Homo sapiens: one gene and its partner. The protein of the gene in region 2 purifies or fractionates together with the protein of the main gene of each other region. This does not show direct contact. Each region holds a gene or a part of one and is shown on either strand. Other genes may lie near its edges.

Evidence for each region. Proteins that work in one complex are often made in the same cells at the same time.
Region 1: the proteins of DFFB (region 2) and PRKACB purify together in Homo sapiens (affinity purification with mass spectrometry; 2 studies listed by BioGRID and IntAct, with this or other methods). This does not show direct contact.

What each region holds. Positions count from the first base shown.
Region 1 is NC_000001.11:84,182,140-84,185,910, reverse strand, and holds part of PRKACB (cAMP-dependent protein kinase catalytic subunit beta), read right to left. Parts: intron 3,712-3,771; coding exon 3,583-3,711; intron 1,875-3,582; coding exon 1,776-1,874; intron 812-1,775; coding exon 729-811; intron 1-728. UniProt on the Homo sapiens protein: Mediates cAMP-dependent signaling triggered by receptor binding to GPCRs.
Region 2 is NC_000001.11:3,867,398-3,871,168, forward strand, and holds part of DFFB (DNA fragmentation factor subunit beta), read left to right. Parts: intron 1-576; coding exon 577-656; intron 657-2,207; coding exon 2,208-2,378; intron 2,379-3,771. UniProt on the Homo sapiens protein: Nuclease that induces DNA fragmentation and chromatin condensation during apoptosis. Degrades naked DNA and induces apoptotic morphology.

The sequences.
Region 1 (3,771 bases), about 80 Mb from region 2:
AATAAAATGTTGAATTTAGAGATTTGTCTCTACATTTTTATTTTGACTTCAACACACTATACTGAATGAAGCTGTACCTGTTTTTTATTTTAGCTTTATTCTATTAGTGATTATTAATGAACGGTAGAAGCTTATAAACTATTAAGTACAGGTAAAACCATCAGATTCTATAACCTATTTTAATAACTCTGAGATCTTATTAGTCATAACCTGATGAGGTACAAACTCCCGTTAAATTATGTGTATATTTTAAAAACTAAACTTAGCAAGAACTTTAAGGAGAATTAAATTTGTGAAAAACAAACTTTTATAATCTTATTACCATAATACTATTATTATTATTTCTCTATATATTTATTTTCCATCTTCATCCTTAAAACAATCCTCTGTCCTGGAGTTGTATTATTAATCTTTGTTTAATAAATATTGATATTTTAAAATTCAATTAATTTTTCCATTTTCTGAAAACTCTTCAAGTAGTGGACCCTCACAATATCTAGCAGTAGTATAACATTTAAATTGGCTTCAAAGTCCTTTTTTTATATTAAATTTTTATATTCTTTATATTAAAACTTGTGTATGATGTGGCCTCTTTGTTTCCACCTAATGCTTCATATGGCCAAAATATTAATCAAACAAAATAAGTTTTTGGCATTGGCATCAACTTAAAAATCTGGTTAAACAACACAAGCATATAAAGATTTGAAGAAAGCAAAACCATTAGTTACCTGAACCTTCCAATTCTTCTTAGATGTGAAAACATTTCACCCCCAGGGACATATTCCATAACCATGTATAAATTAGAATTATCCTATGAACAAATAAAAAGGAAATACAATTATTCAACTTAGGTCAAAATTATTTTAATATTATATAATGCTGAATTAGAAAAATTTAAAATCTCTCTGACAGATTAATAACCTTGAGAAATAAAGAATAAATGGAACATGCTCTAGCTTTTCTATACAGAGACACTCATATTTTTCCCCTCCTAGTTATTTTTGCCACAAACTAGTCTGGGACTTTTGCTCTTCCTTTTCTTGCAGAGAACATCTAGTTCTCAAACAATTAAATACTCAGGCAATGAAGTAACGTTATAATATATGCAAAAGAATAACAAAGGTAAAAAACAATTTAAAAAGTTAATAAGAATATTTACATTTTATGTATAAAAGATTAATGGTTTTAATATTTTAAATACATAGGTCTTCATTTAATTTAAAGAATAAAGGAGAAAAAAGATTAAAATGTTTCATATGATTCAATATTGCAGAGAGATGCCAGTATCATTCCAAAGAGCTCAAAAGTGACCAATTTAAATAATAAATGTGGTACAATTTTTCAGACATTTGAATAGTGGAACAAAAATTTTGCTTTGTATAAGTGAAAAGACTAGAACTCAAATTACTAAGTAAAAGAAGATGAGATAGTGGCAAAAAGGGCTTAATCAAAGTAGAAAATGTGTTGGGTGTATGAATTTGCATAAGAATTGTTATTAAGATATCCCTATGGTTTTTGATAAATTGAAATATTTCTTTTTGTAATACCATCTCATGAGTATCACCTTTGAACAATTTCCCCAGGGAGAATCAAAACCTTTTCAAACGTTACCTAAGTTATAAGCACAATAGGATTTAATTACACAAACTCTAGAGGTATTCGTTTTGTTTATTCATATTCTTCAGGCTTATCATCTGGTTTAGAATCCATTTATAGTTTCATCTTAAAAAAAATTTAGGTTGAAAATATCTTATTTAGATATTACTAAAATTTACCTTAAAAGCATACTCCAGTCGAACAAGGAAAGGAAAATTCACTGCCTGTAATATTCTTTTCTCATTCAAAGTATGCTCTATTTGCTTCAGTTTAACAACCTGTAATTGAGAGATAAATATCTCTTAATGTATTTAAGCAAAATTAAAAAGTTATCATTTAAAAAAATGTTTTCCATATAGTAATAAACTTGGATAAGCAAAATTGTTAGAATTGGATAAGGAAGATAATAACAATTACCAACTTTTAGGTTGGTGCATAAGTAATTGCGGTTTTTGCCATTACTTTTAATAATAGGATTCAAATGAAAACCTAATAGAGGATTTAAAACTTGGTCTTAGGAAGGTCAATTATGGTTTCAATTAAGAAGTGAGAGCTAAGTAGGAATAAGAAACAAACTCATAAGAAATTACTTTAAAAATTAGTTATGTCAATTATGCTTAAATAAATATATAATTACTTAAGGTAATTTAAAAATGAATGTGAAAATACTAAGGTCCTAATGACTTAAAGTCCTCTATAAAAGCTGGCTCAAATCTCTGCAATAAGTAGATAGTGATTTTAAATACTTCAGAAGATGAATAAGAAAATTAAAAATGAAGAGAAAGTCCATAACTGAAAAATAGTGAGTAAAAATGAACAATTTTCATTTTATAATATCTAAATAAATATAGGTATAAATTCTAAAAATTTATTTTATATTGCCATAGAAGAGGACACACAAAATATTGGGGAAAAAACTATCTTTATAACAAAAACTATCTTTGTATCCTAGGTCATTTAGACTTAAGCTTCCTCTAGATTTTCTATTTAATAGAAGGGGAAAGTAATTTATCTTGACTTCACGAAGACTGTGATTCTATTCCATATGTGATTCTATTTTGAATTTAAGAAGTGGTGACTTTAGCAAGACATATAAATAATTTTCTTGTATATGTGTAAATCATTAGAAGGTGGCATTCTTTCTTGCTGGAGTCTAATGGTCAATGTGAGGATAGTCACAGAAGTCAAGAAGTTAAATATAAATAACAAAAGTAATTAAAGATACCAGCCAGGTATTAATATATAAAATTAGGAGTATACTGATAATATTGAGCAAATAAATTGAGTAGGAGTCAGATTTGTGTTTTAATCTAGGCCTTTTATTTAACTAACTTTCTGACTTGAGATGATTTCAAATCTTTGGGCCTCAGGTTTTCAAAATTTGTAACATGAAGTGGTTGGATCACTACTGTACACATTTTAACTTCTGTAATAGTTACAAAACAAATTAGTCCATAATTGTCACAATAAATTATAGTTGTCCATCAGTATCCCTGGGGGTTGGTTCCAGGACCTACAGCAGAAACCAAAATGCCCAGGTGCTCAAGTCCCTTATATAAAATGACAGAGGCTTTGCATAAAGCCTATACACACTGTCCATATACTTTAAATCATCTCTAGATTACTTATAATACCTGATATATTGTAAATGCTATGTAAATAGTTGTTACACTGTATTGTTTAGGGAATAATAACAAGAAACAAAAGTCTGTACATGTTAGGTATAGATGTAATTTTTTTCCCAAATATCTTCAATCTGTGATTGGTTAAATCCATGGACGTGGAACCCATAGATATGGAAGGGCTGACTGTATACTAACTATGTATAATATAGTTACAATAAAAATTTAGTTACAATAAAAATTAAATTTAATAATAAAATTATTTGAAGCTGTCAATGGTAAGTCATTATACTGAATCTGTTTAATAGTCTAGCTGATAAAACTAAAGTTTACCCTGAAGGTAAATAACAACAAATACACTCACCTTCTGCTTATCTAAGATCTTCATGGCATAATACTGTTCAGTGGCTTTGTGTTTTACCAACATGACTCTTCCAAATGAACCTGTTCCAAGGGTTTTTTTCCTTTCAAAATCTTCAAGTCCGGCATTATTCTATATGTAAATACATAAATAAAATTTAAAATTCTCGTAAAAACACTATGGGAATTATAA
Region 2 (3,771 bases):
GCCTTGTAAGCCCATCAGAGGCGATGCTGAGAGATTGTAGCCTTTTTGGGAAAGGAGGGCTTGAGGGCCAGGCAGAAGCTCCTTGGTGGTATTTGAGATGCTTCTAACAACAAAAACCAAACAGGGATGCTGTCTGTGTCGCCATTAGAATACTTCTCAAGATGATGCAATCTGGCCAGGTGTCGTTGCTCACACCTATAATCCTAGCACTTTGGGAGGCCGAGGCTGGAAGACAGCTTGAGCCCTGGAGTTCAAGATCAGCCTAGGTAACAAAGTGAGACCTCATCTCTAAAAACATTTAAAAAGTGAGCCAGGTGTGGTAGTGCGTCCCTGTAGTCTTAGCCACTTGGAAGTCTGAGGCAGGAGGATTCCCTGAGCCCAGGAGGTTAAGGCTGTAGTAAGCTGTGTTCGTGCCACTGTACTCCAGCCTGGAGGACAGAGCAAGACCCTGTCAAAAAGATGAAGCAGTATGACCCTCATATTCTGCCCTGCTTGGCACCTGGGCTGGGCAGGACACAGACCCAGAGGCCCCTGGCCTGCCCTGTGGACTTGGGGGTCTTCTCGTTTTCCTTGCAGGCTTGGAGTCCCGATTTCAGAGCAAGTCTGGCTATCTGAGATACAGCTGTGAGAGCCGGATCCGGAGTTACCTGAGGGAGGTGAGCCTGAGTGAAGACCGGGTATGCTGGGCGGGTTTTTGAAGCCAGGCTCTGTGGGCTCTGGAAGCCTGTGGTCCTCACGATGGGTAGTTGGTAGGACCACACTCCGTGCTTGCGTGGATCTGGTGGGGCTGCTCTGGTGAGGGAAGCTAGCGCACGGACCCTGTGCCTCCTCCCTTCATGGGGGTGAACACCCATCGGGCCTTTTCAGCTGCACTTGAGGTCACGGGTTGGGGAGCGGGGAGGTGGTGGCTCCTGCCTGCCTCCCCTCCTCTCCTCCTCTCCCCCCGAGGCTTCTTCCTGGGCAGCAGTGGCAAGCGTCACGGCAGACACAGAGCCTGAGCTGTCATTTGCCCAACTGTGACCAAGGTCAGCAGGTGCTACAGGGATCTGAGGCCCTTCCCATGAGCCCATCCTTGGTCTGCAAACCTCTCCACCGCTCCCTCCTCCCTCCCAAAGGTGGAGTCAGCTCTGCCCTCATTTCCATCCACCCCATCGAATGTGGATTTCCTCATCACATAGCATGACATGCCACGCTACACCATACCACACCATACCAGACCACACCACACCAGGCCACACCACACCAAGCCACACCACACCAGGCCACACCACACCACACCACGCCACACCACACCAGGCCACACCACACCAGGCCACACCACGTCATTCCACACCATGCCACACCGCATCATTAGCACATGGAGGGTGCTGTGGAGGCCCCTGCAATGGGTGTCCTGTCCTAGTGCTGCCCTGCGTGGTCGGCCCCCACGCCCTCGGCCCACTCCTCTCTGTGGCACAATTGCTAATGCTGCACTGCACCCCGTTTTTCTGCATCTCTTCGAGGTCCTGGCGACTTGCCATGTTCCCTTGCATTTCCCAGCCTGCTCCCTGTAGTGGAGCTAACTGATCCTGATACTCTTCCCTGCAAGTGCAATGACCAGGCCCTTCCACGCACCACTGCCTGCCTGACCAGGGTGGGATGGCCGTGCCTGCCTGACTTTATTAGCTCATCTTCTTTTTTGAGACGGAGTCTCACTCTGTTGCTCAGGCTGGAGTACAGTGGTGCAATCTCAGCTCACTGCAACCTCTGCCTTCCAGGTTCAAGTAATCCTCCTGCCTCAGCCTCCCAAGTAGCTGGGATTACAGGCATGTACCACCATGCCCAGCTAATTTTTTGTATTTCTAGTAGAAATGGGGTTTCACCATGTTGGTCAGGCTGGTCTCAAACTCCTGACCTCAAGTGATCCGCCCACCTCGGCCTCCCAGAGTGCTGGGATTACAGACGTGAGCCACCACACCCAGCCTGTTATCTCATCTAAGTCTCACCCAGCCTGGGGGCTGGTGTGGTTCCCTCCATTTCACAGGTCAGAGTCTCCCAGGGTGGGACAGCCCAGCAGTGGCCGAGAGGCCACGTGAACTCAGACCCTCTGACCACAGGACTGGGCTTGGGCAGGGTCTCAGAGGGCCATGGAGTGAGATGGATCGAGAGCCAGTGCGGGTTTTGGGGCGCTGTGCACCAGGCTCACCGACGTTCCTTGGTTCCTCCAGGTGAGCTCCTACCCCTCCACGGTGGGTGCGGAGGCTCAGGAGGAATTCCTGCGGGTCCTCGGCTCCATGTGCCAGAGGCTCCGGTCCATGCAGTACAATGGCAGCTACTTCGACAGAGGAGCCAAGGGCGGCAGCCGCCTCTGCACACCGGAAGGCTGGTTCTCCTGCCAGGTGAGCTGTGTGCCCTTTATCCTGGGGCCACCCGGCTGGCCTGTGGAACACAGCCCGCCTGGGGCGAGGCGGGTGGGGACCTTCAGCCCTTGCCCTGCCTGGGCAAAGCCTTGTGAAGAGGTACAGCCCTCACATTCCCAGGGAGGGCGGCAGTGTCTCAGCCAGTGCCTCTCAAGCTGCAGTGCACACAGGAATCCCTGGGGAGCTTGCAGAGGGCTGCAGGGCCCGCCCCAGGGCTTGTCTCGGTAGTGCTGGGCGGTGTCTTAGTCAGCCCCGGCTGCCATAACAGATGACCCCTGCTGGGGAGGCTGGAACGGCAGCTGGTTACTGCTCATAGTTCTGGAGGCTGGAAGCTGAGATCAGGTCCGCACTCCCCCGCTGCCTTCCCAGGTGTCCCTGCTGCACCGTGCTAGGCGTGGTCTGGCCTTTAGTGGTGATGCATCTGTGTCTCTGGCGAGTCCTGGGCACACCCCTCCCCCTCCCATGGTGTGGGGAGCAACTTGAGGCGCCTCTTGGCGTTTGCACACTGCAGTTGCATTCCCGGTAAGGTCCACTGATGCCCGTGATCTTCCGAGTGCCACTCAGTGGGTCCAGCAGCAGGGGCCAGGTGGTGGGCATGGCCTGCGGTGCTTCTTCCCATGGGACAGGGCTCCTTGCTGCTCCTGCCAGGCAGATCCTTCTGGGGTGATGGGCTCTGGCCATAAAAACGCTTCTTCCAAGTTAGCTTAACATTTAGACTTTGCAGTGCGCTCGCTCACCACTCAGTGAGTACTTACTTTGTGCCTGGCACTGTGGGAGGGGTTGGGACACAAAAATGAAAAATCCTTCATCCCTGATGGCAGGGTGAGTCCTGCACAATGGAAGGTGAAAGACACATAAATGAGCGAGACAGAGGAGGCCAAGGGGCTGCAGGAGCCGCAGCCAGCATCCTGGGAGCCAGGGCCAGTCAGAAGCGGCCCCAGGGAGGGGGTGGGGCCTTAGAGCAGGTTGACTGATAGGTGGGGGTGCAAGAGTGAGCTGGGAGGGACCAGGTGCTCCGGGCATGGCAGTGGGAAGCAGTGGGCTCTGCTGGGGAGGCTGTGAGTCCCCAGGGTGATGGGGGCACAGAGTGCAAGTAGGCACTGGGGCTCCCGGCACGTGCTCTGCAGATGTCTGTTCACGAATGAGTGTGTTGAGTGCTGGGCTGCGGACCACAGGGAAGACGGAAGCTGTGGCCATGGCACCTTCAGTGAGGCAGCCCTGCCTCTGCATTGGGATCACAGGGAAACATCAGGAAGCCGCGGGCAATGGCTGGAAAGGGAGCCTCTGGGACATGGGTCCTTGCTTCTCACGCGCTGGTCCTGCCCTGGCAAGTCAGTACCTTCCTGGCCTCACTTCCCATGAGGTGGGGGTG